Homo sapiens: one gene and its partners. The protein of the gene in region 3 interacts with the protein of the main gene of each other region in a pairwise test. Each region holds a gene or a part of one and is shown on either strand. Other genes may lie near its edges. The genes, in order: LPAR3, TMEM120A, CYBRD1 and VAPB.

Region 1 (7,023 bases), on a different chromosome or scaffold from region 3:
CGTCATTCCTCCTGCAGGTACTGAGCCTCCCCCTTTCCGGCCTTGATGATCCTTTGTTCCTCATCCTGGATTCTGTATTTGTGGAGGAGTCACCTGGAACTCAGTCCTGCTGTGGATGGCAGAGGTGGTGATGGGGCTGGGGAGCTATCTGCATAAGTGCAGAGACTTTGTGCTTTTACAAACGGTGGACTAGAGGTACTTGGAGCACAGGGTTCTGTCTTTGAATCCTAGTCCCACTTTTGTGAGTTCTTGTGACCCTGAATAGATTGTCATGTTTAAGTTTTTTTCATTTATATAGTGGGGATAATAATTACTTTTCTACCTGTCTACATGGATTGTTAATGAGTTCCATTAACTTATGTACGTGAAAGAGCTTTGTACCCTGTGAAGAGTGCATAAACATTGGAATTAAAGAGGCAGGACATCCAGATGTGGGCCACCCCAGGCAGGCCCACTCAGCTCTGGCTATTGGGGGTTGGCAGTATCTCCACAAGCATGTTTTGAGTGCTAAGGGGGCACTGCTGCAGTTCTTCCATATTCCTCTCTCCCGTCCTCTGACATCATACTGGACTTCGAGGAGGAAATAGCATCAAAGGTTGAGAAACTGCTCTGTGGGGAATATGAGAGGAAGTTAAATTTCAGGACTGAGGTTACCCAACACTACATGATCGAAGGCATAGGGCAAAGTTCCAAAGAAGCTTTAATTTCGTGTTGGAATTACCTGTACTGTCTGCGCATCTCAGTTCTTAGTGGACAAACACAAACAGCTGGCCACCACCCATCCCACAGGTCAGGAGGAGGGTGCTGATGGCAATGTTGGACAATGTATTGGGTCCACCTATACCATCCTCACTCCCCTGTGCCTTCTTGCTGACTTGGGTCTCTAGTTTACTCTGCAAAGTTCTAAACTGACCAAAGGCATTGCTCCCCCACCCCCAAATTAAGCTAATTACTTAATTCAGTCTGAAAGATATTTGTTGCTCTCTACCTGTCCTGGCAAGCCAGCTGGAGGGTGGGGGAGGGGATTTAGTACCATTGAGGGGAAGGTTCTGACATCCTGGGTTATACCCACCCCTCTCTTCATCACCCCCAGTCTTATGTCCTCCTCTTTATTCCTCTTCCTTGGCTGGCCTCTTGTCCTGTGTATCTACAACCTTGAACTCCTCCCTTGCCCATGACCCCTGATACTGCCCTACTCCCATGATTCTGTCACCCCTCTTCAGATGTGAATCATTTGTACACCTCAGGCTGGGCCAGACTGGGTGTCACTGTGGAAAGCAACCTGCCCAGCACAGCCTGCCCCACCCCTTCCTGAGGATGTTCATCAACCCCTCTAATTACTCATCAGCTAGTCCTGTGTCTACATTGTTCCCTGGGACATTAAGCTGGAGCTTCTACTAGCCCTGGCCTTGACTCACCCATGTGCAGATTGACCAGTTATCAAGGGATGGCTTGGCAGGTGGCAGGGCTGGGTTGGAGGGCACATTAGCCCCTCCATAAGTGCACTATTTGGTCCAAAGGCCTTCCAAGCAAACATGCGGTCTAAATAAAAGCAGTGTATTTGCTTTATAAATGCAGCTTTAAGGCAAGCCCCTGGTCTCCCCTTTTAAGCCAAGCTATCCCGAAGCACATCCTCTGTAGAAATTCTGGAGCTGCCCCCAGACAGACTCAGACCATGTAATTCAAAGATAGGCAGCGGAGTCTATCAGCAGCATTCACTCCCTAAGGAGGTAGAAAGCCAGAGTTAAGACTCAAAGCCATTGGCAGTGACTAGTTATAGAAAACCAAAGCAAGGGATCAAGTATAGAATTTATTGGGAGCACATCAGTGAATCATTTACCTCCTGCCCTGTTTGATTTTTAGTAAGTCAGTTCGTCGAATGGGGGTAAGGAAGGCCTTTCTCTGGACAAAAACTATCACATGGGTCTGGTGAAGAGAAAATAAGTAGTATAATCTTTTTCTATGTCTCCATGGCATTAGGTTTGAAATCTCAATCTCTCCCTCTCTCTCCCTCCCTCCTTCTCTCTGTCTCTGCCTCTCTCTGTGTGTGTGTGTGTGTGTGTGTGTGTGTATGTATGTATATATATATATATAAAATATACATCATCAGTCTTTATTCTGAGAGGAAGTCATAGACATTATTCTCCATCACTCTTGAAAACACTCCAGCATAAAAAAAAAAGCAAGCACTCTGTCCTCCTATATAACCAGCGTACACCCATCAAATCAGGAAATGGACATTGATACAAAACACTATCATCCAATCCACAGAGCCCATTCCTATTTCGTCAGTTATCCCCCAAATGTCTCTTCTACCTGTCTGATCTAGGATTCATGTTACATTTAGTTACCATGTCTCTTCTGGAACGGTTCCTCAGACTTTCCCTGTTCCTAAAGTGTTTGCAGTTGTATAGGTCCTACATGCTGTAGGATGACTCCCAACCTGGCTGTATTGGGTATTTCTTCACAGCCTGACTGAGGTCATGCATTCTTGGCAGGAATCCTTCAGAAATGAAACTCAGCTCTTCTTAGCTTCTTACAACAGAAGGCACATGGTGCCAACCCATCCCACTGCTGGGATATTGACCTCAATCACCTGGTTATGTTGGTGTTTGCCAGATTTCTTCACCTTAAATTCGCCATTTTTCCTTCGTTTCCCTTTGTTTCCCCAAAGGTGTTTGAAAACACCTTTGTACTAGTGTTTGTGGGGAACTATTCTAGGGTTATGCAAATAGCCTGTTCCTCATTAAACCTGTACCTACAGAAACTACCATTTATTGATGACGTCTGCCTGAATCAGCCACCTCTATGAATGTTGCCAAATGGTGATTCTTTTTTTTTTTTTTTAAGACAAGGTCTCACTCTGTTGCCATGCTGGAGTGCAGTGGCATGATCTTGGCTCACTGCAGCCCCAACCTCCTGGGCTCAAGTGATCCTCCTGCCTCAGCCCCCCAAGTTGCTGGAACTACAAGTGCACACTACCACACCTGGCTTATTTTTTTTTTTTTGTATTTTTTGTAGAGATGGAGTTGGTTTCACCATGGTGCCCAAGCTGGTCTCGAAATCCTGAGCTCAAGTGATCCACCTGCCTTGGCCTCCCAAAGTGCTGGGATTACAGGCATGAGCCCCTGCACCCAGCCTCAAGTGATGATTCTTTATCACCGTCACTCTTTCTACATTTGTTAGTTGGCATACTACTATAAGGAAGAACTTTATTTTTCTGTTATGTTTTTACTAAGAACTGTTCATGGATTCCTTATGTATTCAATAAGTTGAAGTCTCACGATTGTTTTTTATTTTAATGCTCAAATTGTGCTCAATTTGGCCAATGGGGACCCCTTGGAGCTGCCTCCTGTGTCCTTTTAACACATCCCTATTATTCATTGAGCATTTCTTTATTTTCTGGCTCCACCAGATCATCTGGACTCATCTTCTACTTTCCTTGACCTAGTTAGGCCTCCCTTTTAGTAGAGAATGGTACTTTTGTCTTATTTATATTTTATATATTTAAGGCATACAACATGATATTTTCATGTATTTATCTTGATAAACATAGATGTAATGAAGTAATTACTACAGTCAAGCAAATTGACATGCCCATCATAGTTACCTTTCTTGTGTTTGTGATAAGAGTACCTAAAATCTACTCTCTTGGCAAATTAGCAGAATACAATATTTATTAATTTTAATTTTTTTAGAGACAGGGTCTTGCTCTGTACTACAGGCTGGAGTGCAGTGGCGTGATCATAGTTCACTGCAGCCTCTAACTCCTAGGTTTGAGCAGTCCTCCTATCTCAGCCTCCCAAGTAGCTAGGACTCCAGGTGCTCACCACCATTCCCGGCTAATTTAAAAAATATTTTTTAGAGGAGGGGTCTTGCTGTGTTGCCCAGGCTGGCCTCCAACTCCAGCCTTGAATCATCCTCCTGCCTTGGCATCCCAGGTGCTGGGATTACAGGTATGAGCTACCATGCTCAGCCTCAATACAGTATTAGTAACTGTAGTCCTTGTGTTGTACATTAGTGGAAACAGGGAAAAACAGAAGATGTAGATTAAAAGGTACGAAGTTGCAGTTATGTAGGATGAATAAGTCTTGAGATCTAATATGCAATATGAGAATTGTATTTAGACACCAATACATAGGAGGTTGATGTGCCCATTGTTACTGGGGTATTATTGCTTCTAGATCTCTCAGAGGACAGAGCTAGGAAATATATGTGTATATGTGTACACACATTTATAAATTTTTCTATATTAGGCTGTGTATTATAAAATCATGATTCATACTTATACCTACAATTTCAATCTAACACCCAAAGAGCTTTCTGTTCTTCCCCCTTTATATGTTTGTACATATCTTCTCTGGCAGTTAGAAAACCTGACTCTCATTATCTTCAATATTTTTGCTTATTTGCATACAGTAACCAGTCTTACAAATGTGAAGGTCATCCTGCCTCCTCTGTGTCCACCACCTTTGCCACTGCCTCTTGTCCTCGGCTGCCAGGCCTGCTAGCCTGTGTCTCTATGTAGCTTAATCATCAGTCTCCAGTCCCTCTAGCTCACAGCTCTTCCCAGCCATAGCTCATGTCTCTATGTACCTCCCCAAACTCCCCAGCCTCACGTTGCATTCCCAGCTACATGCTGATTGCTGTGTTCTGGGGAAGGAAGAAAAGAGAAGGGAAAGGAAGAAAGAAAATAGGAATGGAAGGAAAGCAAAGAGGAATAGTGTATATATTTTAAAGTCTCATTAGATATTGCCAAATTGCCTTCCCCCAAAGTTCTATCAGTTTACATTCTCACCAACATGTTATGAGGGTACTATTTTCCCCACATTCTTGCCAACACTTGTTGGCAAGTAATAGCCGCTTGTTTAAATGTTATCAATCTGATAGCACTCCAGTTTTAGCTCTATTACAGCTCTGCCACACTTAACCCTGTATTATATGTCTCATCTCACCCTCTAGGTCAGGATTTCTCAACCTTAGCACCACTGACATTTTGGACCGGATACTTCTCTGTTGTGGAGAGCTGGCCTGTGCATTGTAGCGTGTGCAGCAGCATTCCTGGCCTCTGCCCGGTAGATGCCAATAGTACCCCCCTCCCCCAAGTCATGACTGATGCAGATGTCTCCAGATATTGCTAGGAATCCCTGGGAGGAGGAGAGGATTGGCCCTGGCTGCTCTAGATAATGAGTTTCCTGGGGGAATTTTGCATCTTTACACATGTCTTCATGCACTTCTGTCTTTGACGTACATATGCTGAACAGTGAGAGAACGTTAGCTGGACAGGGATGAGAGGAATAAAAGGTTAGGTGGAATCCACTACAACAGGACCAGTGGAACTTGTTCACTGCAAGTATGCAACTTTCCACAAATGCAAATTCCAGGAACATCCAACAGAGGGAAGTGAAGAGGAATGTCAGCAAGGTTAACTTTCCATGGATTGCTACCAGGTTATTACTTGTCTTTCTGAGTTCATTTTTGCCCCAGTTTCGTACAGACAGACAATGAGGTCTGTGGCCTATTTCAGCTGATATACTCTGTTTTGTTGATGGGGAAAGTAAAATGCTTTAGGAGAAGGTGTTAACATCATTTAACATTGTAGAGGTAAACTGAGTTTCTTCTGAGCTTTCTCTGAAACAGGCAAACTGACTAATGGTTGCTAATTTCTATGATGCATTTAGAGTTTTACTGTGATATTTTCATTTGATTATATAGATTTTCCTCCATAAACTCTTACCAAAAACTCTAAGGAGAGATGTGCTTCAAGATTTTTATTGACATTTACCACAATCATTATGTTAGAAATGCAAAATGCTTGTTCCCCGGTGCCACAAAGAAATAGCGCTTGAACATAAATTTAATTCTCTCAGCAAGGCAATTTTTACTTTCTGCGGAAAGGGTATACTCACCAGCAGTCTTGCCACGAGAGTACACCAAACAAAGGAAAAGCAGACATATTTATCCCTTACACATTTGGGTTGTCCTCACTGCTGTGTCCTGCATCCACTGGCTGGAGCCGAACCTCACAGTCTAAACTGATACCCGATTTGCTAAGAGCCTAAAACTTTTTTAGATAGGTAAAGGCAAGGGAGAACAAAGGAAAAGAGGAAGTTGCTTTTGAAAAATTTAAAGAAGTAATAACATTTCCAAATAAGAAAGGGGCATAGGCTGTGAGCTGGAACATGCCTGTGAGCATGTCCAACAGCTACATGCTTAACAAAGAGTTATTAGCACAAAGCAAGGAGGCTTGAAGAAAAATTTTAAAAGAAACTATTATTTCTAACATTTATGATTTATTATTTAACAAGAAGGGAAACTTTGAAGAGGAAACTTTTTACTTTCTGCAATTATATTTCTTCTAGATTCAGTAAATGTTTGCAAAAGGCATTAATGTCATTATGGAGAACAAATCTACGTCTTACATTTCTCTGGGGGTCAGGTGGCAGAGACTGCTTCCAAAAAGAGGCTCCAGTGGTCAGTATTGTTTAAAAAAAAAAAAAACAAAAAAATCCCTGGGCCAGAAGGATGAGGGCTGGTCAGGGTGAATCAGTCCCCAATTTCTACATTTCTTCTCTGTAAAATGGAGAATGCTGAACTGCCCATCTCACTGTGGGATCAAATGGGGAAAGAGATGTAAACTTTGAAATTTGTTCACTAGTATATCAGTGAATGTGTTTTGGTGGATTACTCCAAGATCCTGAAGGAGTGGTTTAGAGGAAGTATGGTAACATAGTAAGAATGTTAAACATTAGGTTTTCAACCCAGCTGGCTAAACCCCTCTTTCCTGATTGTACACATTCATCTGGGACTCTGGGACTAAAAGGTAATGAAAAACACCAGCTAGTGACTCTCTGACTAGATTGGTAGAAGAGAGAAGGCTTTGGCTTTAGGGTGTTATTGTGGTGACCCACCCAGTGTGAGGGAAAGGATTCTTCCTTTGGTCTCCTCTTCCCAATATTCTCTGTTGGGGTCCCTTTTCCCCAGCCTTTTGGGAACAAGCTCACCGTGGAGCTCAGTGGACTT
Region 2 (7,544 bases), on a different chromosome or scaffold from region 3:
TAGAGATGGGTTTTACCATGTTGCCCAGGCGGGTCTTGAACTCCCGACCTCAAGCGATCTGCCTTGGCTTCCCAAAAAAGTGCTGGGATTACAGGCATGAGCCACCGCGCCCAGCCTATTTGTTCTTTTTAAATAAATAGAGACATAGGGTCTCAGTATGTCACCCAGGCTGGTCTTGAACTCCTGAGTTCAAGTGATCCTCCCACCTCCATCTCCCAGAGTGCTGAGATTACAGGTGAGAGCCACCACGCCCGGCCCACTCTTTATTCTGTAAGACTCAGCCCACCCATCCCCTAATCCAGGAAGCCTTCTGCGACCTCCTGGACTGGGTCAGGTGTCCCTCACTGTGCCACCTCATTCCCCATGCTACAAAGCACCTATCACAGTGAAATGTCACTCTCAGCCAGGTGTCTCCCCTGAAGTCAGCACTGTGCCTCATTGCTCAGCCTGTACTGGGCCCAGGGAACATTTGCTGACTATAATGACCAAGAGGAGGCAGCACCCGGCTTCAGGAGTGGCTGTGAACTGAGCTGGGGGTGGCGGTGGGGGCCCTCACCCATTCTTCTTAGGCAAATAGGCCTCCATGTCAAAGAAGAGGCCTTGGCGCTCTTTCATCTGGTTCTCCAGCTCCTGTGCGGCCCCCTCGGCCTCTGCTGGGAGGGAGGGTTTGCATCTGCGGGTAAGGCCAGAAACAGTCAGGGCAAGAGGACTCCCAAGTGTCCTCCCTGACTCCCACAGGGGCAGAAGGGCAAACAGGGCCCAGAGAGGGGAGGGGCGGTGCCCAGGGTCTCACAGCGCCAGCCCTCCCACCCCACACTCTGCCCATGGCGGGTGGGGTAGGGGATCCTAACTTCTTCAGGGCGAGGGCCAGCTCCTGGAGCCGCTTCTTCTGCCGCGTGATGGAGCTGGTGCAATTGTTCTGAAGTTTGGTCAGCTCCTCCAGCTTCAGGCGGTAGAGCCGATGGGTCTCCTGGGGGCCGGAGGGGAGAGGCTCAGGCCAGTTGGGGAGCTACTGAGCCAGAGCCTGCAGGCAGGACGTGGCGCTCAGGCTCCCCCAGGGCTGCTGGGAGGGTTTCGCTCAGCGGGAAAGGAGGTAGAACTGTGCCTGCCCAGGGATGAGGTGGCTGTCTCCCCAAGGCAGGCAAGGACCTGGGTGTCCTCCTGTGAGCCCAGAGACCCCCACAGCACCCCTCCTCCAAAAACAGACTAGGTGTTTTTGTTTTTGTTTTTGTTTTGAGACAGTCTTGTTCTGTTGCCCAGGCTGAAGTGCAATGGCAGGATCTCAGCTCACTCCAACCTCCGCCTCCCGGGTTCAAACCATTCTTCTGCCTCAGCCTCCCAAGTAGCTAGGATTACAGGCACCTGCCATCATGCCTGGCTAATTTTTGTATTTTTGTAGAGACAGGGTTTCACCATGTTGGCCAGGCTGGTCTTGAACTCCTGACCTCAGGTGATCTGCCTGCCTCGGCCTCCCAAAGTGCTGGGATTACAGGCATAAGCCACCGCACCCAGCCAAGGTTTTCTTAGTCTCAGCCCATCTGCTAGTTGTCCCCACCCTACAAGGACAGACTCTTTCTCCTACCTTGAGTCTGGAGCTTAGGCCCCCAGGGCCACCTCCTGGACCAAGCAGGCAGCCCAGAGCCACCCCTCTATCCTCTCAGCTCCTCCTGCCTATCTAGCCTTCCAGTACAGGAGGAGCTCAGGTTCTCAGGAATCCCTGACATCTTCTTCCCAGGTTAAAGGTCATCAGGTTTCAACCCTAGAGCCTCCTGCTCTAAGGCCAGCCCCACTCCCTTCCCCTAGCACCTTTGGCCCAAGGATTCCCCAAGCACTTTGCCCTGGTAGGTGAGTCTCAAGAAGGCGCAGCCTAGAGATGGGGCAAGGGGCAGTGTGAGGAGAGCCAAGCAGGGGCTGTGGCCAGGACAGCGGCGGCCAGGCGGGGAGACTGGGTCTGCTCAGTCTCTGGGGAGAAGCACCAATGGCAGGGGCCTTGGCAGGGCCAGGGGCAGCTGGGTTTCAATGCCCACAGGAAGCAGTTGGAACCAGTCCAGGAGAGGCCAAGGGCTAACCAAGCCATCAGCTGGCCAGGGCTCTACTCTGTCTGGATCTTGTTTCTCATGCCCAGGAGGGGTCACCACGCCCCCTCGGACCCCAGCACGTGCCACTTCTGCCCACCCACAGCCACCGCCCTCTTCCCTGCCTGGATGAGGCCAACAGCCTCCTCCTCCCTGGCCTCTGGACAGAACAGCCACGGTGGCCCTGGGGAGCTCAGTCCAGACAATTCCTCCCGTAGCTTTCCACTGGCCTCGGAGGGACTCTGATCTCTGCCAGGCCAGAGCGTCCCTGCAGGGCCTAGCCCCGCCCACCCCTCCCACCCGTCCCACCCCTCCCCTGGTTCTCCTTGATGCAGCCACATGGGCCTGTCAAGTCCCCTCTTTCCTTCCAAAGGCCTCGGCGGCGCGCGGTATCCCTCTGCCTGGGGCGTCCCCCATCCAGGCCGAGGACACCCCCCTAAACGCTGCTCCCCCGACCTGGGCTGCCTCTCGGGCGCTGCCCGCTGCGCGTTTGCTGAGTGGCTGACCCAAGGCTGGGCCCGCCCGTGTGTGACTCAGGCGGCCGCTCTCTTCTGGGAAGGGACGGGGTCGGGGTCTGGGCCCCTTTCCAAGGCCCTCATTGGAAGCCGAGGTCGCCCAGCGCGATGGGGTCCCGCCGGGGTTCCCGGACACTGGAGGTGGTGGCAGTGGACACCAGGACCAGGGGCCTCGCCCCCCTTGGCAGTGACGCCAGGGCCCCGACCCCTGACCCTTAGCTCCCCACTGCCTGACCCAGGGCTGCCCGACCCTTGACCCTGAGCCAGCGAGACGCGGCTCGGGGGCGACCCGGCGTCCGCAGCGGCGCTAACCTGGATGTTCTGGAAGTCCTGCTGTAGATCCTCCCAGTCCCGCAGGCAGTCGCCCAGCGGGCCCGGGGGCGGGGGCTGCATGGCTGCAGCGCCAGTAGCCAGTAGTGGAGGACGGCGCAGCAACCCCGGCCCACCCGAGGCTCCTCCGCCACCGCCCCCGTCCGCTTCCGGGCTCGCGCCGCCACGGGCACCAATGGGGAAAGGCCACGCCCCCCACCCCAGCCAATCCGGGACAGGGGCGGGGTATGGGCGGGGCCGTATGCAAGGGCGGTTGCTAGCCCCGGGACTCGCGGCCTGGACCGGGACTGGGACGGCTGCAGCCCCCGGGCCTGGACTGCACTGACTGTGCCAGCCGCGTGGTGCAGCCAGCAGGGCTCTGGCCCGTCATGCTGAGAGCAAACCAAGGTGCAGGGAGGTGACACCTGCTTGCAACATTTTCGTCCTTGGGAAGCTGAGCCTCTTTGGGGAAGGGAGTTAGAGCTGCTTCTCTCGCTTGGATTTTTACAGCGGCCTCCTTTCTCCCTGCCTCACCTCCACTGTCCCTTCTCGCGGCCACCGGACTGCCCTTCCCAAAACACAAGGCTGATTCCCCATCATGTTCATGCTTAAAACTTTCCAGCGGCTGTGTCCTGCCTACCAGGAGGTCCCTAATCGGAGCTCTGCAGCCATCCCGGGCTCTGTCCCAACTCACACCCTGAGGAAAGCCAGGGCTGTGTGTAAAGCCGTTCCCCCTCTGGCAAAACCCCACTCCTCCTTGAAGGCCTGCCCTTCTGTTGAGGGGAATCCCCCACCCCCTCCCACCCCCATCCCTCCACAGAGCGCGCTAAGTGGTGGGACGGCATTCATCTCTCTGTTCCCAGCCCCACCCACGCGGTGGCAGGGAATGGTTGCCGAATGGACTTGGGGAAGGTCCTGCATGGATGGACATCCTAATCCCCTACCAGTCCCCTAGTCTGTGCCGTCTCCTGATGCCCAGTTTGTTCTGTGGGTGCTGCCAGCTTTGGAGAAGTGCATTTGGAAAACAACTTCCAACTGGGTGCCGTGGCCCACACCTGTAATCCCAGCATTTTGGGGAGGCCGAGGCTGGAGGATCACTTGAGCCCAGAAGTTCGAGACCAGCCTAGGCAACAGAGCAAGACCCTGTTTCTACAAAAATAAAAATAAATTAGCCAGGTGTGATGGTGCATGCCTGCATTCCCAGCTACTCACTCAGGAGGTTGAGGTGGGAGGATCGCTTGAGCCCAGGGAAGTTGAGGCTGCAGTGAGCCATGATTGCGCCACTGCACTCCAGCCTGAGAGACACAGCAAGACCGTGCCTCCAAAAAAAAGGAAAGGGGGTAAAAAAAAGGAAAACTTTTAAGACCTTAGGAATTTCTAGAAACGTGGATAGGGAGATGGGGGAGGGGGTGAGAATCTCTCCTTGGTGAACACAGCCAGGCAGAAATGAGTGGGGAGCAGGGAAAGAAAATCTGTTTCAAGGGGTGGATGGCAGGAAGCGCTGGGGATGAGGCAAGGGTGTGATCCCATTCTAGGAGCCTGGGGGCTAGACAAGGCTGGGCTTGGTATCTCTGGGACTAGGGGACTGCCTATTGGTGGCTATTGTGACATCCTCTGTGAACCAACACAGGCAACCTCTGGGTACCCCCAGGCAGCCTCCAAAGGGTCTAAGTCACCAGGGGGATGCAGGGCAGCTGCTCTAGCAGCCAGATGCTCTTCCAGAGGCAGCCTCAGGGGTGCAGTTGGGATGGCCCGCGACACCTCAGGGATGCGGGTTCTTGGTGAACCTGAGCAGGGCGCATCAGCTAGGTGGCGTGAACAGGCACTTGGGAAGAATCAGTACAGGAGGCTAACATGAGACTTTCAGGCAGCAAAGGCCTTCTCCTTCCAGACAAGCCTGGGTATACACACTCTGGCCCTCCACCCACAAAATGCCCCCAGGTGAGGCTCTTCAGTACCCTTCGGTGGGCCTCGGAGAAGATCAGTAGAGCGGATCCATGATGTTTGTGATGGAATCTCCAAGGATAGTCTTCTCCCATTCCAGCAGCTGGCTCACCAATCCCCGATTTGGACACATGTTGTTTTTGCACTTCTTGACATAGGCCCAGGACCTCTATGAATACAAAGAGAGAAAGTGAACTTCACGATTGGTCCTGGGCCCTTTCCACTTGGATCAGAGGCAGCTTTCAGAGACAGGAGGCACTTGCACAGTGCCAGCAACACGGCTTAAGGGCTGGATGCAGAAACAGGGCAGCCTGGCATGAATGCATCAGTGCTGGGAGTCATGGGAGCTGACTCTGCCTTGGGCAAGCCCCTCTGCTTCTAAATCTGGTGACAGAAATAATTCCTATTTCAAACAGCTTCTGGGAAGATTAAGACAATATACATGAAACCACCTGTGGATGGCAAACACTATGCCAAGCCTAGTGCAGTCTCAACAAAGGTTTGCATTGTGACTGGACAAATTAATGGAAAGAGGAAGAGAACTGTGGGCAAATTCTCTGAAGAAGAAAATTCAAGCTGCCCTCCTTCAGGCATCCACCTTAAAGTACAGGAAGTGTTGCTGCATGAAGGAGGGTGAGCACCTGGTCTCCATCTGGATTGAGGACAAACGAAAAAGGGAAAGGCAAGAGTGGTGCCTAAAACTAGGAACAGAAGGAAATGGCCAGGCACAGTGGCTCATGCCTGTAATCCTGGCACTTTGGGGGGCCGAGACGGGTGGATCACCTGAGGTCAGGAGTTCGAGACTAGCCTGGCCAATGTGGCGAAACCCTGTCTCTACTAAAAAAATGCAAAAATTAGCCAAGTATGGTGGCACATGCCTGTAATCCCAGCTACTTGGGTGGCTGAGGCAGGAAAATTGCTTGAACCTGGGAGGCGGAGGTTGCAGTGAGCCGAGATTGCACCACTGCACTCCAGCCTGGGTGACAGAGCAAGACTCTGTCTCAAAAACAAAAAAGGAAGGAAGTGATGTCAACCTGATAAAGGCCATATATGAGAAGCCCACAGCTAACATCACACTCAATGGCGAAAGATAAAGTTTTTCCTCTAAGATCGGGAACAAGGCAAGGGTGCTTGCTTTCATCACTTCTGTTCAACATAGTCCTAGAAGTCCTAGCCAGAACAATGAGGCAAGAAAAAGAAATAAAAGGCATCTACAATGGATAGGAAGAAGTAACCTTACCTCTGGTTTGAAGATGACATGATTTCATATGTAGAAAACCCTAAAGATTACACACACACACAACACACACACACAGCTAATAAATTCAGCAAGGATGCAGGATACAAAACCAACATGCAAAAATTAGTTGCATGTCTATATACTAAACAATTCAAAAAGGAAATTAAGAAAACAATTCCATTTACAGTAGCATCAAAAAGAATAAAATATTTAACCAAGGAGGCAAAAGACTTGTACACTGAAAACTCCAAAACAGTGCTGAAAGAAATTAAAGGTACAAACAAATGAAAAGACATCCTGTGTTCATGGGTTGGAAAGCTTAATATTATTAAGATGCCAATACAACTCAAAGTAATCCACAGGTTTAAGGCAATCCCTATCAAAATCCCAACAACATTTTTTGTAGAAATAGAAAAATCCATCCTAAAATTCATATGGAATCTCAAAGGACCCCATAAAAAATATTTAAGAAGAACAAAGTTGTAGGTCTCACACTTCCTGATTTCAAACCTTAGTCTAACAAAACTACAGTAATCAAAACAGTATGGTATGGACATGAAGACAAAGAGACTAGTGGAATAGAATAGCCAGCCTAGCCTAGAAATAAACCCTTACCTATATGGTCAAGCAATTTTTTTTTTTTTTGAGACTGAGTCTCACTCTGTTGCCCAGGCTGGAGTGCAATTGTGCAATCTCAGCTTACTGCAACCTCCGCCTCCTGGGTTCAAGTGATCCTTGTGCCTCAGCCTCCCAAGTAACTGGGATTACAGGCATGTGCCACCACGCCTGGCTCATTTTTGTATTTTTAGCAGAGACGAGGTTTTGCCATGTCAGCCAGGCTGGTCTCAAACTCCTGACCTCAGGTGATCTGCCCACCTCTGCCTCCCAACCTGCTGGGATTACAGGTGTGAGCCACTGCACCGGGCCTGTCAAGGAATTTTTGATAGTATGCCAAGACCATTCGATGGGGGAAAAGGACAGTCATTTCAACAAATGGTGCTAGGAAAACTAGATACGCCATGCAAAGAATGAAATTGAAAACAGGAAATCAATAGAGAAAATCAAAAAAACCAAAAGCCGGTTCTTTGAAAAGATCAATAAAATCGATACACCGCTAGCCAGGCTAACTTAAACAGAAGACACAAATTACTAATACAGAAGTGAAAGAGAAGACATTGCTACAGATCCCACAGACATTAAAAGGATAATAGAAGAATATTCATATCCACAAATGTGATTGATCAATTCCTTGAAAGACACAGACTGCCAAAACTCACACAAGAAGAAACAGACAATCTGAATAGGCCTACATATATTAAAGAAATTGAGTGGTGGCAGATGCCTGTAGTCCCAGTTACTCGGGAGGCTGAGGCAGAAGAATGGCATGAGCCCGGGAGGCAGAGCTTGCAGTGAGTCGAGATTGTGCTACTGTACTCCAGCCTGGGTGACAGAGCGAGACTC
Region 3 (7,366 bases):
CTCCCCCTCCTTCCACTGGAGCCTTCCTAATACTTAGGGTGAGGAATGTGGATGGGTTGGCCAAGATATGGAAGAACTGGGGAGAACTATACATGTGCCTACATGTATGAAAACATTTATGCTCATGTCAATTAAATGCATTATGATTAAAGTGATTTGCACATCCAGGATCCAAACAGGAAACAGGATGAGTAATGACGGGACAAACTCTGGACCATTGATACAAATACAGTAATTGAACCTAAAGAAAACAAGATCGGCCGGGTACTGTGGCTCACGTCTGTAATCTCAGCAGTCTGGGGGGCCGAGGTAGGCGGATCACTTGAGGTCAGGAATTCGAGGCCAGCCTGGCCAACATGGTGAAACCCCGTCTCTACTAAAAATACAAAAATTAGCTGGGCGTGGTGGTAGGCATCTGTAATCCCAGCTACTGGGGAGGCTGGGGCAGGAGAATTGCTTGAACCTGGGAGGTGGAGGTTGCAGTGAGCCAAGATTGCGCCACTGCACTCCAGCCTGGGCGACAGAGCAAGACTACGTCTTGAAAGAAAGAAAAAAAGAAACAAGATTTTCGTAAGAGCAGCAGATGAAAATTGCCAAAATTTACACATTTTTGTCCAAGAGTTAAGTATGAACAGATTAAGAGAAGTACAAAGTTTAGAGAAATTTAAAAACCTTTTAGAAAACCGTATATTGGACTCTAACATGAATGAAGAGTTTCAAAACATATTTTAGATGAAGGTTTTCGCTGTCTAAAAAGATTTGGCAGAAAATAAGCATATTGCCATAAAAGCAGAGAATCCAACTTTGACGATAAGGTCACTGAAAAGACTTAAAACAACTTTCATGGGTAAGTTACATAACTTCTCTGCCTCAGTTTACTCTTACATACATGTGATGTGACATAATGCACTTAGTGGACACACAGCATGCAATCACTATTAGCCATTCTGATGTCTTCTCCTCTGTGGCAAGTCAGGCAACGAGCAATAACACTTGTGTTTCCCTTACCCTCAATTATGAGAAGATATTCCAAGACCTCCAGAAAGCTTTTTGGTATTAGAAGCTGCTCTGAAGAGTTGGGTAGAAGAGGAGACTGGCTCTACTCTTTGAGCAAACAAGGTGTAGACAGCTCGGGGCCAAACTTAAGGGCTCCACCACGAAGGAAAGAGTGCTTCTGACAGTTACTTTGGAACTTGAGTATGTTTTTTTCTTATAAGCATAGTGGCAAAATAACTGAGAGTTACGCAACGAAATGCCTTAGGTGCCCAGTGGTGCTCACACCCTGATGCCGATCTCACACCCTGATGCCGATCTCACACCAGGGAAGCCTTTGAATGCTGAGGGTTAGTAACACCTTCCACTACATTCCAGAGTGGGAGAATGCTGGCCACACTTGCCAAAGCTGCAGTACAAGTTTAAAACAACCAACAAAAACAAAAGCCAAAATCACTTTTCTTTAGGAATGAGGTCAGCACTCTTTTGCACACTCGTTTGTGGGGAGTTAAATATTTGGTGAAGAAAAGGCAGCCTGCCCGCAGGCAAAGCTAGAGATTTCGGCCAGTGGGCATATCTTTCCAAACCCTTGCTACTCCTCTCGATTATTTTCTGCGACATAACACCACTCCACCCCTTGCTGCCTTTCTCTAACTACTTTCTGAAGGCCGTGCCTTTGGGGAAGTGGTTACAAATAAATGGTGTTTGCGCCAAAAGCTAGAGGTTCCTCCAGCTACACGGCAAACCGAAGGAAGCAGTCAGGACATTGAGAGGCACTACACAATGACAACAAACATTGCCAGCGACTGCTGAGCCCCTCCCCCGCGCCAGCCTCAGCCCAGAGAATGCAGGCCCGGGGCTGGCTCGCCGCGGGCCAAACACGGACGCAGCTTGCGCCGGGGGCATCCCGAGCAGAGGCATCCCTCGGTGCCAGGCAGCCGCGGGCCCTCTCCGGGCATCTCCCACCCGGAGTGCTGGGCCAGTGCCCAATAGGAAGCCCCGCGGGGGAACTTTCGCCACTCTTCTGCCACATAAACAAGTCGGGCTCAAGACCGTCCAATGACTGGGCAGGGCGGCGAAACACACTTGGAAGTCCTGGCAGCTTCCCGGACTCGACTGAGTTTAACACTCTAGGAGGAGAGGAACCCAGGGCGGATGCTTCACTCGCCCCCCTTGGCCAGCCCCTTTACCCAGGGCCGAGGATGTTACAAATACGGGCAAATTCTCGCTCCGGCAATCTTTTCCCCGCTGCCTTCCCCTCCTCATCTGCAGCCTGGAAGCAAGTTCAGCAAAAGGCTGAGGCGAAAGTGTTTCCGCGCCCCCGATCGCGCAGGCTCGGTCCACAGGGGCGACTTTCCGGGGCGCGTGGGCTGCAGCGGCCCGACTGCGCGGCGCTCCGGCATCGCGCCCGGGCTCAAGTTTCTGGGTCTTGGAGGCCCCTCCAGTGCGTCCTAGCCAGTCGCCGCAAAGAGTTAACCAAGTGGGGCCGGCCCCGCTCCGCCGCCCCCAGCAGCGCGTCTCCACCGCGCACCCCCGGCCCCGCGCTCGCGGCGATCCTCCTGAACCGCAGCTCTGTCCCGCCCCAGAGCCAGCCAGCCTCCCTCCCGCCCAGCCGACTTGGCTTCCCGCGCGCTCCTCACCGCACTCCTCCGGGCCCCGCGATCCTCCAGCACTTCCTCAGCTGGAAGGGGCTTCACGGAGGACCCTCTGCCCCCGCCGTTCTCCCCGCTTTCCTCCCCGCACCCCCCCAGGAGGTGCCAGTACCGATGCCCTGGATGAAGACGAAGCCGGTGACCATGAGCACTGGGTGCCAGTTAAACTCTAGTGCGCTCCCATCCCAGCCAAGCCCCTCTCGGTAGTGGAGGACCCAGACGAGGGCGAAGATCACCGACAGGAAGCCGACGAGCAGTGCCGACCCCAGCAGCGCCAGGAAGCGCCAGTAGCCCTCCATGGCCATCAGCGCCCCATACTCCGCACCGCGGGGGCCACAAGAACTTGGAGAGGCGGCGGCAGCCCTCTGGGTAGTGGCCGGGCGGCGGGACCGGGGCGTCGACTTCTTGGGGCTGTCTCCGCCTGCGGGGAGGGACTTTCTGGGCTGCTGGCCCGGAATGTGGGGCCTCTTGGGGGTGGGGAGCTGGCCCCAACTCAGAAATGGGCCCCACCCCCGGGATCACGCGGCCGCCGAGGGCGCTCATTGCCTGGTGGCCTCACCCTCTCCCTCGTCCAGCATCCAAGCTCGCAGAGGGCTTCAGTAACAGACCTAGTTAGTTGCTCAAAGAGAAAATTCCGAGGATTTTATACTCACCACTTGCTTTTAACACTTCCCGTGTCTCGTCCTTATTTGTGGGGAGGTTGAGTAGGGCAGTGGTGCGCCCTCTTGGTTAAGAGAAGAGAGGGATCCGTTGGGTAGGGTTATGTGTGTGCTTTTAACTACTAACGAAGCCTCCTTAGCCACAGTGCTGGAGAATTGGCTGTCTCTGACATCAAAGGGTGTTAAGGAGGAACCTGTAAGGTGGTGTAAACTAAAAATAAAATCCTAAGCCCCTCACTGACTGAATGGACCTCCTTGGCCAAGCAGACCCCAGAAAAACCTTAAAGCTGAGTTTCTAGCTACAGCCGGAAGGGAAGTCTACCCCCTCCATTTTGGAATTTAGACTCAACAGCTGACTAGCATTAATGTTTAAAATAGAAATCATAAGGCGGACAGAACAGACTCTTTGTAGCAATAAGACATCAAATTATAAAAAGGACCTAAGTCACACACTCCTACACTTAAGAAATAAACTATGGTCTAACTGCCACAAAGGTTTTCTTTTCCTCTAGAGGCTAAACAAGCACTGGCTTGAGATAAGCAATATTAAAACAATTACAACTTAATCAGTTCACAGATGCTGACCAGCTGAACCCCTGTTGCACCAGCCAGAACTACAGCTTTCACTGGGCTGATTTCAGGAACTTTTTCATGATAAGAAGACCGACCATGGACCGGTTCTGGCCAGTGTACAGGGATTGTGCACTTGTATGCATTCACGTCCTGAAAAGACCTTTTGAAGTGTAGGTTTGAAGTAATACATTTAAATGTATTTGAAGTAATACAATTAAATGTTAAGTCTCCACCCCAAAGAGAACATGTTACATGCATGTTTGTTCAATATGCATGTGTAAGGACCACCTCCATTAATATTCATAGCTCCTCCTGTAACCTGTTACGTATGTATGTTTGGCCAAACTGTTCAGCATAAAGCTCCTACCCCAACCCCTCTGCCTTCCAAGTGCCTGTCTCTGGTCTTAGGCCAGAGGCTATGTTTATCAGCCTATGGAATGGCCTCCTTGCAGGCTATAACCTTTTATAAGAAATAAAGTCTCCTCTTTTTTCAAATTTATAATTTTTTGTTTTAAGTTAACAGTAAAGGCCAGGCGCAGTGCCTCACACCTGTAATCTTAGCACTTTGGGAGGCTAAGGCGGGCAGATCACTTGAGTCCAGGAGTTTGAGAACAGCCTGGGCAACAAGGTGAAACCCTGTCTCTACTGAAAATACAAATGCATGCACCTGTAGCCCCAGCTACTTGGGGGACTGAGGAAGGAGGATCACTTGAGCCCAGAAGGTCGAGGCTGCAGTGAGCTGAGGTTGCACCACTGCACTTCAGCTTGGGTGACAAAGTGAGACTCTGTCTCAAAAAAAAACAAAAAACAAAAAACAAAAAAAACCCAGTAAACCGGGTCCCCATGAGGTGTCTCACAGCTGTAATCCCAGGGCTTTGGGAGGTGGAGGCAAGAGAATCACTTGAGCTCAGGAGAGGTATGATCGCACCACTGCACTGCAGCCTGGTGACAGCTAGACTCTGTCTGGAAACAAAACAAAAACAGCATGGGCAGCGGTGGGCTTGGCCTTATCCTGCAATGAAACTACTTGCAGTTTGCTCTTGAGAGAGGGAAGACAGGAACCTCCTGGACCTGGACTTGCCGTTTAGTGTGACAAATGGATTTTCAAAGTGCCCGCCCACCCAAACCAATTTGAACCAAAGCCCCTCCTTGATGAAGTGAAGCTTGCTCCCTGCCCTCTTTCCAACATTATCCTCACCCTTCTCCACTGGACAAAAACAATGTCAGCATTATCTAATGCTATTATAAGAAAAAGGGTTCTGACTGCCAGGGCTTCCAGAATGCATTTGGGAACGTTCACTTCTAGCCCTCTTCTGTAGCTCATCTCCAAGGACTACTTTGCTATATTGTCTTGTTGCCGTCTTGAAAGACCTTAGAATGTGCAGGAAGTATACGGGGATGATTTTCAAAGCAGGCTAAGGAAATAGGAGTGGCAAGCCATGGTAGTAGGGCAGGATTAAGGGCTCAGAGTAAAAGGCTGTAGACCTCACCTGTGTCATTATTTTTCCCTTGGTGGGGAGAGTAAGCAAATGGAAGAGAAGGATACCTTTCCCCAGCACAAGGCTTTCTTTGATCTGGTCCAGCCTAGCACCCCCTGCCAGTCTCTTACCACAACCTGACTGGCCCTGATGTCCTTGGCTGTAAACTGCTCTGGCAGCTTCTGACCACTTCCTACCCACGCCACTGCCTCTAAATTTCCCTGACCCCCATCTCCACTGAGAAACCTTCCCTGAGTCTGCCCCTGCCCAGACTTTTATATCCCACTGACCTCCCCATCCAGTGCCTCCTTGTGTCACCTGTCAGGATGTAATATAAGGATCTGCTTCTCTGGCTGTCTCCACTCTCAGACTGCCCTATTGAAGGCATTGATTCTCTAATTGATCATTTTATTCCTCCTTGGGATGTGGTAGTTACTCAATAAACATGTGTTGGGAGGCTAATGAGACTGAGTGTGTTAATCAGGGTCCTGGCAGAAAACAAACAGCATATTGGAATTGAGTAATTTCATAATGAACAAGACTGTTTATGAAGTTGTGGGCAGTGTAGGAAACCTCAGGGTTAGGCAGTGCCCCAGGTCTGAAGGGCAGAGAATTACTGGAATCCAGAGAGAAAATTGTGCGGAGGGGGAAGTCCGATAGAGGCCTTGAGTACAGGGATGCAGCCAGCCTGCAGAGACCTCATAGGGAGAAAGATGGAAGCAGATAAATATTCCAGCCTTACTCTTCTCCCCTCTGATCTTCTGCCTAGGGTGTCCCAGGGGCTAACCAGAACCTAATCAGAAGCCACAGGGCAGTCCATGTATCCATCCCAGGTCAACTTAGGGCACAGAGCAGAAGAGAGAAGAGTGAGAGCGGATCCCTAGGAATAAAAGGAAACTATCCCTGAATCTTCCGGTTTTATTTTTTCAGACCTTTTTTTGGTTCCTGAGTGCTGCAAACATTGCCTGTTTCATCTTACACTGATTCTTTTCCTTTGCGAACTTTAGCTTGTAATTCTATAATGACATCATTGTATCCCTATCCCTCTCCCTAAAAGTATCTAGTCTTTGTCCTCAATTAATGTTTTCACCCCATTGACCTAACACCTTCACTCCACTCTTGAGTTAATTTTGCTTCATAGCAGCAGCAGATGAGAATCTCTGGGATTCCAGACCCCATTTAACAAAACATTTCGGGAGGATGAAAACATGGCCAAATGGTACCAATGGTGTTGAATCATCTTGAAGTTATATGTAAAACTGAGAGAATTTCAACTTTTAAATTATCTTTTAAGAACCTAACTTTGATATTAAATAAAACTGTCACTGAGAAGGGGAAATTTTTCAATAAACATTGTTGTGGCTTACTGTTAACCTTTTAATTAATTAATTAATTATTTTTCTTTTTGAGACAGGGTCCCACTCTGTCACCCAGATTGGAGTGCAGTGGCATGATCTTGGCTCACTGCAGCCTCCACCTCCTGGACTCACCCTCCTGCCTCAGCCTCCCAAGTAGCTGGGACCACAGGCGTGTGTCACCATGCCTGGCTAATTTTTGTATGTTTGGTAGAAAGGGGGTTTCATCATGTTGCTCAGGCTGGTCTCAAACTCCTGAGCTCAGGAGATCCACCTGCCTTGGCGGCCCAAAGTGCTGGCATTATAGGCATGAGCCACCACCCCTGCCTGTGAACTTTTTTAAAACAGAGTTGTTAAATGATAGAAGTTTCCCTCTGGAGATTGTAAGCAGTTTGTCACCAAAGTACCTAATCAGACTCAATAACCTGTCAGCAATGCTGTTGGGTGATTCCTGATGTAGCAGGTGGGGGAGAGCATTGAAGAAGATGGCCTTCCTAAAAACCTAGAAGCTGGCCGGGCGCAGTGGCTCACGCCTGTAATCCCAGCACTTTGGGAGGCCAAGGCGGGCAGATCTTGAGGTCAGGAGATCGAGACCATCCTGGCTAACACGGTGAAACCCTGTCTCTACTAAAAATACAAAAAATTGGCCAGACGTG
Region 4 (7,023 bases), on a different chromosome or scaffold from region 3:
GTTTAGAAGGAATGACATGGCTGTTAGTGGCTTTGTAAGTGCATAGTACTATACAGAGATTAGACAACCACTTAACTACTTAAGTGGTTTCATCACTTCTGTACCTGAAAGGTGTGGCAGAGAATAGCGATCATTCTGGCCCTGGATTGGCCAAAGTAATTATGCCAAAGTCACTGGATATTTTTGCTAGGGAAGTGGTCCAAGAGAAGTGGTACCAAATTGTTGAAGGCCTCTGGCTCATAACTTTAGAAGAGACATCTGTGTGTGTTCTTAAATGACGTCATGAGGTGTGTTGTTTGTTTGTTTTAAACTGAATGCTAAGACAGTACAATTAATAGAGACTGAATACCCTGACTTAGAGATAATTCATTTCAGGATGAGAAATGGCACATTTAACTGGTTTCTTCCAGGTTACTCAGGGTGACGACTCTGATTTCTGGTCGTTCACCTAGATGAACCTCTGAGCTAACTTTACTTGAGAAGGTAATAACTAAAATGCCCATTCAAAGGAAAAATTATCTTTTAAATGCAGCCTAAGTTGATCGTATGGGATTGTATATTGTCAGACTCTTTAATCTTGGGAATTTTGTGTGGTATGTTAAATTTAAGGATGTTACAGAAGAAAAAGAATGCAAATTTATATGACTTTATGCAGTTTTATAGGAAGTACTATGCTGCATCATAAATATCAAAAGGAGAAAGCCTGGTGGCTTCCTGAAAGAAGCATGACACAGGAGGATTTGCCTAGACTTAAGGTTGACTTTCATGAGATATTTTTAGTAAGTGAACATTAAGCTCTTTCAGACTAGGGGTATCTTTCTGAGAGAGTAAATGTTTTTGTTTTTTGGCAGGGTCTTGCTCTGTCACCCAGGCTGGAGGGCAGTGGTGCCATCATAGCTCACTGTAGCCTCAAACTCCTGGGCTCAAGAGATCCTCCTGCTTTAGGTTCCCTGGTAGCTAGGACTACAGATGCCACCATTCCTGGCTAATTTTTAAATTTTTTTGTAAAGATAGAGTCTTGCCATGTTGCCCAGGCTGGTCTTGAATTCCTGGCCTCAAGCAGTCCTCCCGCCTCAGCCTTCCAAAGTGCTGGGATTACAGGCATGAGCCACTGCATGCAGCCTAAGTGTGTGTTTTCTTTTATATTTCTTTTTGTCTTTTTCACTAAGTCATAGGAGTTTTTTAAAATTGTCACTCTTTCTGTTGATCTCAGTTCTTCCAAGTCCTAATCGTTTCCTTGCCATCTCCTCACTCTGAGATCCCACTTGTTGTCCAGCTCAAAGAGAGCTTTCCGAATGAGTCACTTTCAAGGCATTATATAGCACTCTTCTTTCATTCCCTTCTCCCTCCCCTTCCATGAGAGTCCATCTGTGGTAAATAGTATGTCATATATTTTTTGGTCGTTCAGGACTCTAGATCATTCCTTACATCCTAGCCCATTCCCCCAGCAATGATACTGTCACATGGAAATGGTCTGTTGAACATCCATCCTCACTAGGTTAAGGTTTGTTTTGTTTTGTTTTGTTTTGTTTTGTTTTTTTTGAGATGGAGTTTGGCTCTTGTTGCTCAGGCTGGAGTGCAATGGCGCGATCTTGGCTCACCGCAACCTCCGCCTCCCGGGTTCAAGCACTTCTCCTGCCTCAGCCTCCCGAGTAGCTGGGATTACAGGCATGCGCCACCATGCCCGGCTAATTTTGTACTTTCAATAGAGACAGGGTTTCTCCCTGTTGGTCAGGCTGGTCTCGAACTCCCGACCTCAGGTGATCCACCCACCTCGGCCTCCCAAAGTGCTGGGATGATAGGTGTGCGCCACTGCACCCAGCCGGTTAAGGTTTAAACATAACTGTGGATGCATTTACTTTTGCTTTATTGCTTGACTGAACCAATGACCTTCAAGAAGTCTTAGATAGTCCTGCCATTAGTAGGGATCTCAGATGGGAGGGCACCAATGAATCAGTGTAGTTGAGTACCACTTTTGGGAGAAAATAGAAACTTGGACACTCTAAATGATAGTTTAAGGACGTTGTTTGTTTTGTTTTGTTTTTTGTATGGGAAAAGTTGGCTTAGACTCTTTAGTTCAGCCCTTCAAGTTGATGTGTAATTTAAGATTGTTTAGGAAGTTAAAAAATCTAAAGCCCTGTGGATATAGTTCATTCAGTGCAGTAATTATCTTTCAGATGCCAAGTACAGCATTAATTCTTTAGCTTTAGCATGGCACTGATTTTCTTAACACTTCATGATCACGTGGAGCAGACTGTGCTTTACAGCACAACAGAGCGTCAGCCATGTGCTGAAGATTCTTCGTGGTAGTGGTTTAGATCCACCCTGAATAGATTATCTTCATTTATTTAATTATTAAGTAGCTTGCTTATCAAAAGCGGCATTAAACTTACTAAACTTGAGTCAAACGTAAATCTTCATAGATAGTACCATTTACTTCTGAAATCTTGTTCCTGGGAGAAAAATGTGGACTGGAAGTTAACTTTCTTTTATCCACCTATTCACTCCTTTTTCTTCACAGTTAACTCCTTAGGGGAAAAAATGTATAGTTCTTGACCATGTGCTTATGTTTGTAAAGCAATGATGTTTCCTTAACGTGAGTGGTTGTGACATAGATCACTGTTATCTTCATAATTACCTGGGAGCTTTTCATCCAAGTGTGGATTTACTAAAATAATTAGTCTGAATTGATGCTTATTAAAGAGCTGAACTCTTAAACGTTAACACTATCTTGTATTTATTAAAATTGTATGCATGTTTCCTTCAAATGCTGAAGGCAGAATACTGAGAACTTTGACCCTGTGTTATTATCGCTAAGTAGTTGAAAATTAGGGGAGGAGTCAAGGGAGTATATTATATTGGTTATCACTCAAATACTACCCCTAGGCATGATTTTTAGAACCGAAACTTGAATTTTTACATAAAGAATTATCTCCAAAAGTGTCTTTTTTTTTTTTTTTTTTGAGATGGAGTCTTGCTCTGTTGCCAGGCTGGAGTGCAATGGCACTATCTCGGCTCACTGCAACCTCCGCCTCCTGGGTTCAAACGATTCTCCTGCCTCAGCCTCCCGAGTAGCTGGGACTACAGGCACATGCCACCATGCCTAGCTAATTTTTGTATTTTTAATAGAGACGGGGTTTCACCATGTTGGCCAGATGGTCTCGATCTCTTGACCTCGTGATCCGCCCACCTCGGCCTCCCAAAGTGCTGGGATTACAGACATGAGCCTCTGCGCCAGGCCAAGAGTGTCTTATATATCCCCACTTTTTTGAAAAATTTGCTGTCTAAAGGATGATCATGATTTGGGACGAATGAGCACAGCTTTCAACTAGATGACAAGAAAGATGAATACAAAGAGTGCTGAGTTCCATTAGTCAAGACAAGGTTGCCATAGAATGTCTTTAATAAAATAAAACAAAAGCCTTTTGCGTTATTTTGCACCGAGGATTGTGTTAAAAACAAAGTTGCATTATGGTTTCCAGATTGGCATCCTTGTTTTTTTCTATCATTTTAGGCCCCTTTCAGGCTGTTATCAGCATAGCATATCCAGGATTGCTTTGGCCTTGCTCAGTGGGTATGTGCGTTCTTTGAAGTTCTTACCTGACAGATGTGGGCAGCTGGCTTTACACAAGGAAGAGTTGTTTAAAGAGCTTTGGTATGGAAACAAAGTTACTAAACTTGACAGTCACTTGAGGATTATTTAAAAAACAAACAAAATAACTGAATGTGGTAAAATACTATCTCTAGAATATTTTTCAAACTGTTAAATGCATCCTTTTAACAGAAGCTGTTGATGTCTACAAACACTGTCTTTGTAGACAAAGACAAACCCCCCTTGCATGGGGGTTTGGGGGTTGGGAAGCAGTTGAGAAAATGGCATAGTCCCGTGAGAAAACCTTGGAATACTTTCTTTTAATAACATTTTTTTATTGCATAGAACTGTAAAGCTACAGAAATGCTTTCTTGGAGTTTTCCTTCATCCTTTCAGAAGGGCTAATATTGACCTTTGGTTAGCATGTTAGTATTTTCACCTGTGTCAAGTGATGTCTTCACGCTTTTGGGGGGTGTGTGTGTGCATGCCCACCTCGTGTTGTGTAGGGCACATTGGCCGATACCTATAATGTGTTTCAATTACTACATTGTTGGCATTTCAGTAGGCTCCTTCAGCCTTTGCCCATCTGGGAAGTGGAGACTAGGGCAATAAATGTTTTAGGGGTAGATTGAGACTGCAGTGTTTTTCATCTTTTAGCTTGTACTTTAAGACAATGGGATGTACCCCTAGACCATTTACCTAGATTTAAATTACTTCCTTGTGATGTGGTTTAGAGCTCTAAGTTCCTTGAGTTGTCTTGAAAGGCTGAAGGGTGCTCAGAGAATGGAGGGGAATTGAAAATGGAACCTAAGGATCTGGGAGTGGTCATATGTGTGAGTGGTGAAATGTGCCCCCCAACACCCCGTTGGGTCGGGTCTGGAGTTAAAAGCAGTGGCTGACATACATTTTGCAATATAAGGGTAAAGAAAGGTAAAGAAGGAACAAACATTTCTAGAGGATAAATGCTTTAATTCCAGAAGATAGGCCACACAGTTTAGGAACTGTGGTAAGAGGTGCTTTGCCATATTTATGTTACTGTTTAATCTGTGTAACAATCGTATGAGATGACTTAGTCAGTGGCTAGGTAACTTTCTGCTGGATGAGGCTGCACTAGTAAATGGTGGCACAGGCAAAGCCTTGTACTTTCCCTCATACCAGTATCAGCTCATTAGAGTTAACTCATAAAGGGGTTTGTTCTTGAGAGAGGGAGGCAGAGAATTTAAAACCATTAATGAAGTATTAATAGCTGTCAGGACAATTTCTTAAGAACATCAATTCATTAAGAGTTATTCTCTGAATTTTTTAGGAGGGATTTCTTGCCCTACTTTTGAAAAAGTTCAGACAGATGACTCCAAAGAATGTTTGATTTCTCTTGTGAATATTCACTTTTATATCAGATTCTGATGGTTTCTTGATTCTATATATTTAGAAAGCATTCGGCCGGGCATGGTGGCTCATGCCTGTAATCCCAGCACGTTGGGAGGCTGAGGCAGGCAGATCAACTGAGGTCAGGAGTTCGAGACCAGCCTGACCAACATGGAGAAACCCCATCTCTACTAAAAATACAAAATTAGCCGGGCATGGTAGCGCATGCCTGTAATCCCAGCTACTTGGGAGGCTGAGGCAGGAGAATCGCTTGAACCTGGAAGACGGAGGTTGCGGTGAGCCGAGATCCCGCCATCGCACTCCAGCCTGGGCAACAAGAGCAAAACTCTGTCTCAAAAAAAAAAAAAAACAAAACACATTAACTTGTGGGTAATTTGTCCTTCTGCTATCCAGTCTTTGGAAGGCAGGGCAAAGCTTGTGTGTGGTAGAGATTTCATAGGCTTGCAGGTTTGTAGAGTGGGAATTCAAGAAGTTGTAAAGGGCACTTATTAAGATAGGAATGTCTAAAATAAATGATCTTTAGCAGTGCCACCTTAAACTTTGTAAGTGTTGCTACAAAACCTTTAGTTCTGCATGCTCCTGACCAGCCATTGCCTTGGACAGAGAAACAAATAAGGGTGAGTTAATAAACTAGAGACTTGTCTCAATTGTTCAAAGAGGTAAACTTAAGGTGATTAAAAAGTGCTGTTTTATTCTGTATGAGATACACTTTGGGAAGTCGTCATTTTCCAAGACGATGATACGCCAGGCATACGAATTGGATCAGAAAGGATTTAGAGACATGCATGGATATAATGATCTCTTACAGATGTTCCTCACCTTACAGCGGAGTTACATCCTCAGAAACCCATTGTCAGTTGAAAATATTATAAGTTGAAAACATATTAGATACAGCTTAACCTACCCAACATCATAGCCTTGTCTACCTTAAACATACTCAGAACCCTTAAGTTAGCCTCCAGTTGCACAAAGTCATCTAGCACAAAGCCTATTGTATGATAAAGTATTGAATATCTCATGTACTGCATATTACTAGCCTGGGAAGAGATCAAAATTCAAAATATGTCAAAATTATGATGGCTTCACACCATTGTAAAATTGAAAAATCGCAAGTCAAACCAATCGGGGATTGTCTGTACATAAGAGATGATTGTCCAAATTAGAGCTGTTTTGGGTTTCTGCCCTTTGCAGATCCTTTGAGGTTTTCTTTATAGACAGATGACTCCTTCTGGGGGAATTGAGCGTGACTCTGATTGAGATTTGGTTCAGTTACCACATACTGAAAGCTTCCTGTGGGCCAGGCACTAGGTTGCACTGGGGACCTGGGAGGAAGGCCTAGCCCTTAAAGTTTCCAGCCTCTAGGTATTGGGAGACGAGGGAAAATGGGGACAAGATATTTATGGCCTGTCCTTATTGAGAGCTTAGAAAAAGCTGTGTTAATTCTGCTTTGGGTGTTCGATCTCACAGGGAAGATGGCATTTGAGATATGTGACTTGGCGAGCTTACACTGTGCGCTTGCCATTTTTCTAAGCGTTCATTTATTTAATTCTTAATGCAAGCCTAGGAAGTGGGTACAGTTATGATCCTGAAGTTATTAACCCAAGTTATGAACCTGACTGAGGGTTGGAGCTGGGATTTGAATCAAGATCTGTCTGATTGCAAAGGCTATGGCTTTTTTTTTTTTTGTCGTCATGCTGGCTGTGTTTCTTCCCTTAAAAGATAAGTGGGAGTGTGCCCTTGGCTTTCTTATTTATTATGTTAGGAAGATGAGAGGAGGAGTGAGACTAGAGAAAGAGGCTTGAAAGAGAAATGGGATAGAAAAATAAAGGAAAAGGCTGGGCACAGTGGCTCACACCTGTAATCCCAGCACTTTGGGAGTCTGAGGTGGGTGGATCACCTGAGGTCAGGAGTTCGAGACCAGCGTGACCAACATAGTGAAACCCCATCTCTACTAAAAATACAAAAGTTAGCCGGGCGTGGTGGTGCATGCCTGTAATCCAGGTACTGGGGAGGCTGAGGCAGGAGAACCGCTTCAGCTGGGGAGG

Evidence for each region.
Region 1: the proteins of CYBRD1 (region 3) and LPAR3 interact in binary tests that used the Homo sapiens proteins (3 or more experiments, as listed by UniProt).
Region 2: the proteins of CYBRD1 (region 3) and TMEM120A interact in binary tests that used the Homo sapiens proteins (3 or more experiments, as listed by UniProt).
Region 4: the proteins of CYBRD1 (region 3) and VAPB interact in binary tests that used the Homo sapiens proteins (3 or more experiments, as listed by UniProt).

What each region holds. Positions count from the first base shown.
Region 1 is NC_000001.11:84,883,200-84,890,222, reverse strand, and holds part of LPAR3 (lysophosphatidic acid receptor 3), read left to right. Parts: intron 1-7,023. UniProt on the Homo sapiens protein: Receptor for lysophosphatidic acid (LPA), a mediator of diverse cellular activities. May play a role in the development of ovarian cancer. Seems to be coupled to the G(i)/G(o) and G(q) families of heteromeric G proteins.
Region 2 is NC_000007.14:75,991,588-75,999,131, forward strand, and holds the start of TMEM120A (transmembrane protein 120A), read right to left. Parts: upstream 3,009-7,544; 5' UTR 2,984-3,008; coding exon 2,903-2,983; intron 971-2,902; coding exon 852-970; intron 674-851; coding exon 557-673; intron 1-556. Other genes in the region: STYXL1 (serine/threonine/tyrosine-interacting-like protein 1), read right to left, coding at 4,881-5,012. UniProt on the Homo sapiens protein: Multifunctional protein involved in mechanosensation, and plays an essential role in lipid metabolism and adipocyte differentiation. May function as a potential ion channel involved in sensing mechanical stimuli.
Region 3 is NC_000002.12:171,518,130-171,525,495, reverse strand, and holds the start of CYBRD1 (plasma membrane ascorbate-dependent reductase CYBRD1), read right to left. Parts: upstream 3,023-7,366; 5' UTR 2,951-3,022; coding exon 2,758-2,950; intron 1-2,757. UniProt on the Homo sapiens protein: Plasma membrane reductase that uses cytoplasmic ascorbate as an electron donor to reduce extracellular Fe(3+) into Fe(2+).
Region 4 is NC_000020.11:58,392,208-58,399,230, forward strand, and holds part of VAPB (vesicle-associated membrane protein-associated protein B/C), read left to right. Parts: intron 1-7,023. UniProt on the Homo sapiens protein: Endoplasmic reticulum (ER)-anchored protein that mediates the formation of contact sites between the ER and endosomes via interaction with FFAT motif-containing proteins such as STARD3 or WDR44.